Homo sapiens: one gene and its partners. The protein of the gene in region 2 purifies or fractionates together with the protein of the main gene of each other region. This does not show direct contact. Each region holds a gene or a part of one and is shown on either strand. Other genes may lie near its edges.

What was found.
Region 1: the proteins of HENMT1 (region 2) and RAD51C purify together in Homo sapiens (affinity purification with mass spectrometry; one large-scale study listed by BioGRID and IntAct). This does not show direct contact.
Region 3: the proteins of HENMT1 (region 2) and MTHFD2L purify together in Homo sapiens (affinity purification with mass spectrometry; 2 studies listed by BioGRID and IntAct, with this or other methods). This does not show direct contact.

Annotation. Positions count from the first base shown.
Region 1 is NC_000017.11:58,712,950-58,716,602, forward strand, and holds part of RAD51C (DNA repair protein RAD51 homolog 3), read left to right. Parts: intron 1-3,653. UniProt on the Homo sapiens protein: Essential for the homologous recombination (HR) pathway of DNA repair. Involved in the homologous recombination repair (HRR) pathway of double-stranded DNA breaks arising during DNA replication or induced by DNA-damaging agents.
Region 2 is NC_000001.11:108,658,845-108,662,597, forward strand, and holds the start of HENMT1 (small RNA 2'-O-methyltransferase), read right to left. Parts: upstream 2,250-3,753; 5' UTR 2,164-2,249; coding exon of another isoform or gene 2,119-2,163; intron 1,119-2,118; 5' UTR 1,041-1,118; coding exon 1,020-1,040; intron 1-1,019. UniProt on the Homo sapiens protein: Methyltransferase that adds a 2'-O-methyl group at the 3'-end of piRNAs, a class of 24 to 30 nucleotide RNAs that are generated by a Dicer-independent mechanism and are primarily derived from transposons and other repeated sequence elements.
Region 3 is NC_000004.12:74,160,968-74,164,620, reverse strand, and holds part of MTHFD2L (bifunctional methylenetetrahydrofolate dehydrogenase/cyclohydrolase 2, mitochondrial), read right to left. Parts: exon of another isoform or gene 2,842-3,653; coding exon of another isoform or gene 2,794-2,841; exon of another isoform or gene 2,368-2,793; intron 1-2,367. UniProt on the Homo sapiens protein: Bifunctional mitochondrial folate-interconverting enzyme that has both NAD/NADP-dependent methylenetetrahydrofolate dehydrogenase and methenyltetrahydrofolate cyclohydrolase activities.

The DNA of each region.
Region 1 (3,653 bases), on a different chromosome or scaffold from region 2:
TCATCGCTACAAATTTTTAAAAAAATCTTAGCCAAGCATAGTGGCATGCACCTATAGTTCTAGCTACTTAAGCGGCTGAGGTGGGAGTATTGCTTGAGGCTGGGAGGCAAAGGTTGCAGTGAGCTGAGATCGCACCACTGCACTCCAGCCTAGGCAGCAGAGCAAGACCCTGTCTTCAAAAACACAAAAAGAAATGAAAATGAGGTCATATTATACATGCTATTATGCAAAGCAGTTTTCTGTTTTTCACTTAATATATTGTGAACATCTTTCCATGTATACTACTTTTTTTTTCCATGTACACTACTTATAAGTCTGCTTTACACTAACAGCTGCATAGTATTTTGCTGTATGACTGTAGCATAGGTTTTTTTTGTATTTGTATTTGTTTTTGGGTTTTCTTTTTTATGAGACAGGGTCTCGCTCTGTCATCCAGGCTAGAGTGCAGTGGCATGATCTTGGTTCACTGTAGCCTCAATCTCCTGGGCTTAAGCAATCCTTTCACCTCAGCCTCTTGAGTAACTGAGACCACAGGCACACACCACCACACCCAGCCAATTTTTAAATTTTTTGTAGAGGCTGGGCACGGTGGCTCACACCTATAACCCACCACTGTGGGAGGCCAGGGCAAGCAGATCACTTGAGGTCAGGAGTTCAAGACCAGCCTTGCCAACATGGTGAAACCTTGTCTCTACTAATAATACAAAAATTAGCCAGGTGTGTTGGTGCTCACCTGTAGTCCTAGCTACTTGGGAGGCTGAGGCAGGAGAATCACTTGAACTCGGGAGGTGGAGGTTGCAGTGAGCCAAGATCACACTGTTGCACTCCAGCCTGGGAGACACAGTGAGACTCTAGCTCCAAAATAAATAAATAAATAAGTTTTTTGTAGAGATGAGGTCTCACTATGTTGCCTAGGCTGTTCTTGAACTCCTGGGCTTAAGGGATCCATCTGCTTCAGCCTTCCATAGGCATGAGCCACTGTGCCCACCCTGTAGCGTAGTTTTTTTAACCACCTCCTTATTGATGGTCTCTCTCTTTTTTTTTTTTCTGTTTTAGATAGAGTCTTCCTCTCTCACCCAGGTTGGAGTACAGTGTCACACTCTTGGCTCACTGCAGCCTCCACCTCCCAGGTTCCAGAGCTTCTCATTCCACAGTCTCCCGAATAGCTGGGATTACAGGCGTGCACCACCACACCTGGCTAATTTTTGTATTTTTAGTAGAGATGGGGTTTCACCATGTTGGCCAGGCTGGTCTCAAACTCCTGACCTCAAGTGATCGACCCTCCTCGGCCTCCCAAAGTGCTGGGATTACAGGTGTGAGCCACCACAGCTAGTCTAGAATAAATTTCTTAAAGTGAAAATATTAAGCCAAAGGAATCGATTTTTGAACATTTTGTTTTATGTTATAAAATTACCCTCAGAAACTATGCTCCAAAGTATGTCTCTACAGCAATGAATGGGAACTCTTGTTTTCCCATATCTTTACCAACTTTGGGTACCAGTCTTTTATTTATTTATTTATATCTTTGAGACGGAGTCTCGCTCTGTCGCCCAGGTTGGAGTGCCATGGCGCGATCTTGGCTCACTGCAACCTGTGCCTCCTGGGTTCAAGAGATTCTCCTGCCTCAGCCTCCCGAGTAGCTGGAACTACAGGCGCGTGCCACCATGCCCGGCTAATTTTTTATATTTTTAGTAGAGATGGGTTTCACTGTGTTAGCCAGGATGGTCTCGATCTCCTGACCTCGTGATCCACCCGCCTCAGCCTCCCAAAGTGCTGGGATTATACGCGTGAGCCACCACGCCCAGCTAGGTACCAGTCTTTTAAATCTTTGCCAAATTGATATGGAGAAAGTCCTTTAAAAATATGTTTTTTGGATTATTGGCATAATTTTTTAAACAGCCTTAATGACATATATGATTCATCCTTGCAGTGTGCACAATTCAGTGATTTTCAGTGTATCCACAGAGTTTTGCAAACATCACCACTGTATAATTTTAGAATATTTCCGTCATCCTAAAAAAGAAACCCCAACCTCACAGTGAATTTCAGAATATTTAAAATGTCTGCTCCTTCAGTGTCACGTTTCAAATCTCATGCAAATTTTTCTTGCGGTCAACTATAACTTTGTACCCTATGGAGAAAGTAATTCTGGTTCTGGGAAACACACAGTTCCAGATTATTAAAAAAAAAAAAACAAAAAAAAACAAAAAACCTCTTTTCAGCTGGGTGCAATAGCTCACCCCTGTAATTCCAGCACTTTGGGAGGCCAAGGTGGGTGGATCACCTGAGGTCAGGAGTTCACAACCAGCCTGGCCAACATGGTGAAACCCCATCTCTACTAAAAATACAAAAAAATTAGCCAGTTGTGGTGGCAGGTGCCTGTAATCCCAGCTACTCAGGAGGCTGAGGCAGGAGAATTGCTTGAACCCAGGAGGCGGAGGTTGCAGCAAGCCAGGACCGCGCCATTGCACTCCAGCCTGGGCAACAAGAGCGAAACTCTGTCTCAAAAAAAAAAAAAAAAAAAAACCCTTTTCATTAGCTGTCATTCTCTATTCTACCCTCCCCCAGTCCCTCACAACCACTAGTATGCTTTCTGTTTCTGTGAATTTGTCTTTTCTGGACATTTTATATAAGCAGATCATACAGTATATGGCCTTTTATGTCTGACTTCTTTCACTTAGCGTGATGTTTTCAAGGTTTATCTGTATTTTAGCACCCATCAGTATCTTTTTAATGACTAATTTTGCATTTTATGGATATATCACATTTTGTTTATCTGTTCATTGGTTGAAGGACATTGCATGGCAGAAATATTTTTAAAGCTCTGAAGTTCATAATTTCAAGTGATTGTTACTTTACTGTTTTAAACTTTTGACCTGGCATGGTGGCTCACGCCTGTAATCCCAGCACTTTGGGAGGCCAAGCTGGGTGGATCACCTGAGGTCAGGAGTTCGAGACCAGCCTGGCCAACATGGTGAAACTCTGTCTTTACTAAAAATACAAAATTTAGCCAAGCGTGGTGGGGGACACCTGTAATCCTAGCTACTTGGGAGGCTGAGGCAGGAAACTCTCTTGAACCCAGGAGGCAGAGGTTGCAGTGAGCCGAGGTCATGCCACTGCACTCCAGCCTGAGCAACAGAGCAAGACTCTGTCTCGAAAAAAAAAAAAAAAAGCACTTATTCTTTAGAAGCTTGGCATAATCACATACTAATTTTCAGTTGTATCATGGAGGCCAATCGTTTTGCAAAAGTAATATAATTGCTATATAAATATTTGCTAATAATGGAAATTCTAATTTTGGCATGTTGAATACCTGGTAAATCAGTAGTTTGATTTATATTTTCCTAAAGATACGTAGTGCGTAAACTAAGTACTCTCTCTAAACCAGCACTGTCCAGTAGATCTGATGGAAAGATGAAAATGTACAGTCTAGTACAGTAGCTGCATGACTGTTCAGCACTTGAAATATAGCTAATACTACTGAGCTACTGAATTTATGATTTTAATTTAACTTTTTTATTTATTTTTTTTGAGATGGAGTCTCACTCTGTCGCCCAGGCTGGAGTGCAGTGGCGCGATCTTGGCTCACTGCAACCTCCTCCTCCCGGGTTCACGCCATTCTCCTCCCTCAGCCTCCCTAGTAGCTGGGACTA
Region 2 (3,753 bases):
GATTAATCTGTAATAGCTGTTACTATTCCTATACAGCAGTATTATAAAAGTAGTCCAAAGGGTATTTGATATCTGATGTAGCACTGTCCAATAGATAAAATACAAGTAGGCAACTTTCTTGTAGCCCAAGAATTGGAATTATAATCGGAATTAGAATATTTAAACCAATATATCGAAAATATAATTTTTACATAAAATCAATATAAGAGATTTTAGATTCTTGTTTTTCACATTAAGTCTTCAAAATCCAGTGTGCTACATATTTTGTACTTCTGCGTCTCAGTTCCAAAACCTTCATCAGAAATACTTGTCTGTATTGGATTTAAAAACTTTACATTTAAAATATACATGCACATACCCAAGTTATTCCAAACATACTTTTTTCCAATAATGTAATCAAATATCCAATTTTAAACTTAAAATTAAAAATGAAGTTATGAGCCCAGGTGGTCAGCGTTGCAGTTAACCGTGACTGGGCAAGTGCATTCCAGCCTGGGCAACAGAGCAAGACCCTGTCTTAAAAAAAAAAAAAATTAAAGTTCGGTTCCTCAATTCCACTAGCCACATTTCAAGTGCCCACTTGCCATGTGTAGCTACTGGACAGCAGGGAGCTACACCCTAGGTACTCCCAATGTGGTTTCCAAACCAGTGGCATCTTCACCTAGAAACTTTAGAAACACAAAAGCTTGGGCCTCACCCTAGACCTCCTTAAACAGAATCTGCAACTTAACAAAATCCCCAGGTGATCCATATACACAACCACATTGGGGAACACTACTTAGAGTGTTTTTAAAATAGATTTTGCTACTTTAACACCTAGTGATAAAAGTAAAAACATTTATTTTACTTACATACACCAAATGTGACTCTTTCATCTATGTATACCCTTGTTTACCTCAACCAACACCCCGGGAAATGCTAGGACCTAAATGTGATCAATTTTGTTTGCAATTATCTCACAATACATCCAGGTGATAATTCTTAAGAGTCAAAGACGCAGCTAAGAAGGGTGGCATTACCTGTAGATTATTTTCTTCCATTTTGTTTCGAAGTTTTGTTGAAACAAAAATGAAGATTTATCCTTCAAGCTCTATTTGAGAGAATCAGCACTGACTCAGCTGTAATAAATACAAAACCGTTTTTGTAAAGCGATACCTGAAAGAAATAGCTGCCTAGTTCAGAAGGGAAGAACGAAAGCCTCTTTCTTACTCCTTACTACAGTATATAATTTAAATAGAACGCTTAAAAGTAAATAATGAATTCACCTCTGAGTACTCAAAAAAAAAAAAAAAAACACGAAAGCAGGACTCGAACAGATATTTATACACCGAAGTTCATAGCATTATTCACAATAGCCAATCTGTGGATTAAATGTGGACTACCATTTAATCCACAGAATGTATCCAGTATTTTTTCAGACATTCGCAAACAGGCTCAGAAAGCGTAACTTTTCACTACGTCAAACCCTACTAAGAGCGAAAACAGCCATCCTTTCCCTTTACTATCATGAATAGTTCAACTAGATACAAACGGAGCAATCTTAGGAGTTCTGCCCATTTCATTGCTAAGACCCTCAACTTCAAATTTTTTCAAAAATTTTTCCACACATCGTCAAAATGAAATTTCGAGGGGGAAAAAAAGTGTCCTTGATAAACTAGAGATGCTCCAACATCTATTCAATTCACTCACGAACTTGAATTTAAATTTTAGTTCTCTATTGCACATGTGTCTCCAACAACTAGACTTTAATCTGGAATCTAGGCAACATGTTAGTCACCAACTTGTATTAAGAAACCCTGGCCGGGCGCGGTGGCTCACGCCTGTAATCCCAGCACTTTGGGAGGCCGAGGCGGGCGGATCACGAGGTCAGGAGATCGAGACCATCCCGGCTAAAACGGTGAAACCCCGTCTCTACTAAAAATACAAAAAATTAGCCGGGCGTAGTGGCGGGCGCCTGTAGTCCCAGCTACTTGGGAGGCTGAGGCAGGAGAATGGCATGAACCCGGGAGGCGGAGCTTGCAGTGAGCCGAGATCCCGCCACTGCACTCCAGCCTGGGCGACAGAGCGAGACTCCGTCTCAAAAAAAAAAAAAGAAAAAGAAAAAGAAACCCTGCTCACTGAAACCAACGCTTCTGTCTTTGTACGGGCCGTCGCTTCCATCATCCTGCGGTAAGCAGCATGCCCAACCGAAAAAACAAAGCTCGTCGCGGAGCCGCCAGCGTCCTCAACTCAGCGCCGCCCTGACGCCCGCGCACGCACGGCCTCGCTGCGTGACGCTACCGCCGCGGCTACGCCGGCGCCCGCACCCGCGCCTCGGCCTCCCCGCGGGGCTCGCCAACCTCGTGCGCTCTCACGGTCGGCCTTGGGCCCCGGGAGCCTCATGGTGCGCCGAGCTCCGTCCCTCTAGGCTCTCAGTTCCAAGGCGTCGGTTTTGCGTCTCGTAACGGCCGCTGTGGCGCATGCCCAGAAGCCATTTTCAAGGTCCTCTTCCGAACCTTGGCGAGGACCCCTGCGCCTGCCGCGCCGTTGACCCCGCTAGCGTGCGGCTGCGACGCGGCACGGTACGGCAGCTGTTGGCGAAGGCCCCCAACTCCGAGCGCGTCCGCAGACCGCGAGCCGGAAGGCGGCTTGGGCGGCTGTTGAGTTCGTGGCGCTCCCGAGGCGTGGCAAAGGCCTAAAAACGGTCCTGGCCAGCGGAAGGCGGCAAGAGGAGCAGCAAGGCTCCACGCGAGGCGGCCGGCGGCTGGAGTCCCAGTCAGCCTCCGCTTTCATCCCAGAGCAGTCCACGGGGGCCTTAAAGGAATGTAGGCTGGGTGAAGTTGGCCCAGTGACACCTGCGTTCAGAAAAACGTTCTTTCCGCTCCCAACGCCCCCTCTCCACCGCCACCCGACCCCCGAAATAGTTTTCCCCGAGTGTTGTGGATAGAACTGTTGATCTCTTGGAAAAGTTATTGTATCCTGCCATCCTTCCCTCTGGAGACTCCACTTAATATATATAAGTACTTTCTTTCCTGTATATGATGGAAGAGTATTAGGGGGGTGAGGGGAGGGACGAAGCTGCCTTCTTTAGGGAAAAAAGATTGACTTATATTTTGAAAGATGCAAAAGCTGGTGTTTTTGCTACTGAATTAATAGCCTATTAATATGCCACAAATGATATATTGGAACTGTATTTTCAAACATTTAACGCCTGCTGTATGCAAAGCACTATGCTGACAGCTTAAGGGTACCACAATGATAAATTACACCAATCTTGTTTTTGGCATTTTGGGGAGTCTAGTGTCATAGGTAAAGAAGTACATAACTAACAATAAGCTTCAAAAATTCAATCATAAGGCCCGGCACCGTGGCTTCCGCCTGTAATCCCAGCACTTTGGGGGATCACTTGAGCCCCGGAGTGTGAGACCCCGTCTCTACCAAAAAAAAAAAGAAATTAGCTGGGCATGGTGGTGCCTGCCTGTGGTCCCAACTGTTTGGGAGGCTGAGGCCGGAGGATCACTTGACCCCAGGAATCTGAGCCTGCAGTGAGCTATGATTGCACCACTGCACTCCAGTCTGGGCGACAGAACCAGACCATGTCTAAAAAGAAAAAACACTCAGTGATAATTTCACATTACAGTTTGAGAGGTTCCTGTTGACTTGGGGAAACTAGTTTTAGCAGACTTCATTAAAGGAGTGTACACCTTACTACAGGATGTAATTTAAAATAGAATGTTTAAATAATAAATTCACTTCTGGGTATATACTCAAAGC
Region 3 (3,653 bases), on a different chromosome or scaffold from region 2:
ATAAGAGGATTTGGCTAAAAGTTCATGGGCTGGTTTGCAAAAGTGGCTCTTTCTCTTAGTTTCTGCTAAATTACAGATGGAGACATATTTCGATAACCAGAAACATTATGAGAGCAGAAAGTCTTCAGCACTTAGTGCTGTTTCCATGGGCTTGTTTACTTGTACTTCCAGAAAATAAACTAACCACCTTATCTACGCTTATTAGAATCAAATGATTTATTTAATAAACTAGAGCAAAATAACAAAGGGGGAGGATTATTTCTATGTATCAAAATACTCTTCCACAAAAAAGTAGCTTACCAACAAATAAAACCTAGTCAAGATCAAGAGTTTATTTAATTCGTATACTTGGCAAATCCATATCTTAGTTTCAATCTCATCTTTATTCACGACTTCAACTAGAGCTGCAATGAACCATTTTATCTCTATAATGTTGAAAAAACCTGGCCAGGCATGGTGGCTCACGCCTGTAATCCCAGCACTTTGGGAGGCTGAGGCGGGCGGATCACGAAGTCAGGAGATCAAGACGCATCCTGGCTAACACGGTGAAACCCCGTCCCTACTAAAAATACAAAAAATTAGCCGGGCGTGGTGGCGGGCGCCTGTAGTCCCAGCTACTTGGGAGACTGAGGCAGGAGAATGGCATGAACCCGGGAGGCAGAGTTTGCAGTGAGCCAAGATCGTGCTATTGCACTCCAGCCTGGGTGACAGAGCAAGACTCTGCCTCAAACAAAAAACAAAACAAACAAACAAAAAAAGACGAAAAATCCTAATAGAATGATTAACAATTCCAAGCTCTACCCAGGCCCTAACATACAGTTTAATTGCTTTATATCTTAGGGCATATCTTCGATGTCTTGAGTTTGTACAATAGAAATGAAACCCCCCAAAAACAGGGCAAAATTCCATAGGGAATAAAACCAATCACCAGTATAGGGAGTCTTTTGAAGTGTGTTATTAAAATAAATGAATACCTGCAAGTGTTAAGTTTATGACCTCTTTAAAAAAATTTGTTTCATACCCCAAGTACCCTATTCACATCTTGAAGTAATTTTACTAGAAATTACATCTGCAAATCAATAAAAAGTAAAATACCTTTTCATTATATATGACTCTTCTTCGTATCCAGTTTTTTAACTAGTTAACTTTCTGACTCTGTACTAAACAATATCCATTGTTTTCAAACTAACTTTGTCAGAAAGAACCTTAGATGCTAAGCTTTGTGCCACAAAAGCTCTTGGCCTATCTGCTGAAACCTGTGGACTCTTTCTCAGAACAATCCTTTTAAACATTCAATATAAAATACAGATTACAAGGAAAACCAGTTTTACTGAAATATTATCAAATGCTTTTTTTTAAAAGTATTAAATAACAGGATCTAGTGGTAGGTCTAACTACCATAACAAAATAGTGATGTGCAGATGATGTTTTGTGGTATCTGCCTCAACTTTGTGATACTGAAATATCTGTAAATTATATTAGCAAGTCACATGTACTGATGATATTATGTATTTGTTGCCAACACTAACAATGGAAAAAAAAAAATGCTCAATTTATCAGAAGTTAGTAACCTCCAATCCAAGTTTATGGATCCTCTGAATTCTATCCATAAGGTCCCAGGTTAAGAACATCTCAAACTGAGGGAATCTAACAAAATAATTTTAAAATTTACATGCAAAATTAGCTTTCTAGATTCACAAAAGTTGTATGAGATTTAATATTAATAAATGTTTCAAAAAGAAGAAAAAGTAAGATAAGTCAATAATTATAAACTGCTTGTAGAGAAGAACACCGGAAAGATGATGTGGGTTCAAGCCTTGTCTTCACCATGTATTTACTGTGTCAACTTGACAAGTTTAATTTCTTTAAGCCTCAATTTCTCAATCTGTTAACTGGGAATAGTAATAGTGTCTATCTACTTCCTTTAGTTGTTGTGAGGATCGAAGGACATACTGTATATGCAAAATCTCAGCAAAGTGCTTACCACTGACTAAGAGCTCCTTAGATATTAAGAAAATTGTATTTTTCAACAATACAACTGAATTCCTTAAAAGCATGATGGCATTCATTGCAGTTCCAGTTAATCACAAACAGCAAAAAAAAAAAAAAAAAAAAGTGGGGAGAGAACATCTGTTGTAAACTATACACACACCCTCACTTTAGAATTATGAATCTTTAGATCTTTAGATAGTCTTTGGATCTAGGAACACTCTAATGAGCCTAATTATAGAAACCTACATAGCGTTCAGATGATGCAGTGAACAAACCTGGTTGGTATGACATTGACAAGGACATGACCTCAATCTGAGAGTAAATTATTACATATTTTCCAAGAACTAGACAATAAAAAGCAGCAAGATGGTTAGGTAAGTTAGAGCCAATTGATTTAATGTAATATGACACAGTCATTGAAATGCTAATAAAAACAATAGCAACACAGAAACCACTTGTGATGTAACATTAAGTGGAGCAGCTGGCTAGGCCTTCTTGGATAATATCCCGCCCTGAATTCTTTAACACTACTGTTAATTTAGGTTCAGACTGTGTTCTGTTCTGACCATAAAGTTTTCTACATTGTATGTAAAATGTTGTCTCAGATCCAAAGTGAATTTCTTAATAGCAAATCTCATTTATTACTAATCATTTCTTTAATTTAGCATACTCATTTACAGCTCAAATTTCACCTAAGCTCCTCTCTTAAACCTCCTTCCACAACTTAATTATCTCTAAGCCAAAGTGTAATTTCACTGAGCTCCATGGGATTCCTTGAAAGAGTACGTGCCCATGAAAAGATCATCTGGTGCTGCTCCTTTCTGCTGTTTTCATCCTCCCATCAGGGTACTAATAGGAAAGAATAACAACTTCAAGGCATTTGAAATACAAAGATTTGGCTCATTAAAGAACTTGCCAAATTATTAGTAAGACCATGATTAACTAACAAGATCTAAAATTAATACTAGTCCCTCTTTTTCATGTACTGATCCATTTTAGTCAAAAATCTTGATTGTGGAGATATTAGAACACACTATCTCTGAACAGCTGGAACAAAGAAAATAAAACTTAAGATATGAGAGACCAAATGTTGAAACACTTAGTTTTTGAATTTAAAATGACATAAGAACTTCTTAGAAATCAAAATTGTAGCCAGATGGCTATTATATCTCATTTCAGTAGAACACATACAGCAGGAAGGTAGGAACACTACCCACATTATCACATTTGCCAACTAAATAGAAGATGATTTTGAGAAACTGCCTTTCCTAGTCATTAGAAGAGACAGAAATACAGAGTAAGTAGTAGAGGGAAGAGTCTGAAAAATAAAATGAACATTGTTACTGATAAAATGTGTCTTTTTAAATTATTAAACTTAACTACCCACGGTAAAAGACGTGAATACTTAAATAACACAAATAAGTATCTTTTACTAGTTCCAAAAATGTAGATTTTTTTAAAATGTGGTCTAGCTGCAAAAATTATACAGCCGATGCCAGTGCGACACAAAGAAAGGTGAAACTTCCATAAAGACCTGTAGGCAGTACACAATTTTTTTAAAAGCTAAAAGAAATAATAGTATGAAGACAAAAAAGAGAATCTACCAAATTAACGATTTGAGGATTCACTGAGCAACAGGATAAACATGGAATGCTTGGGAT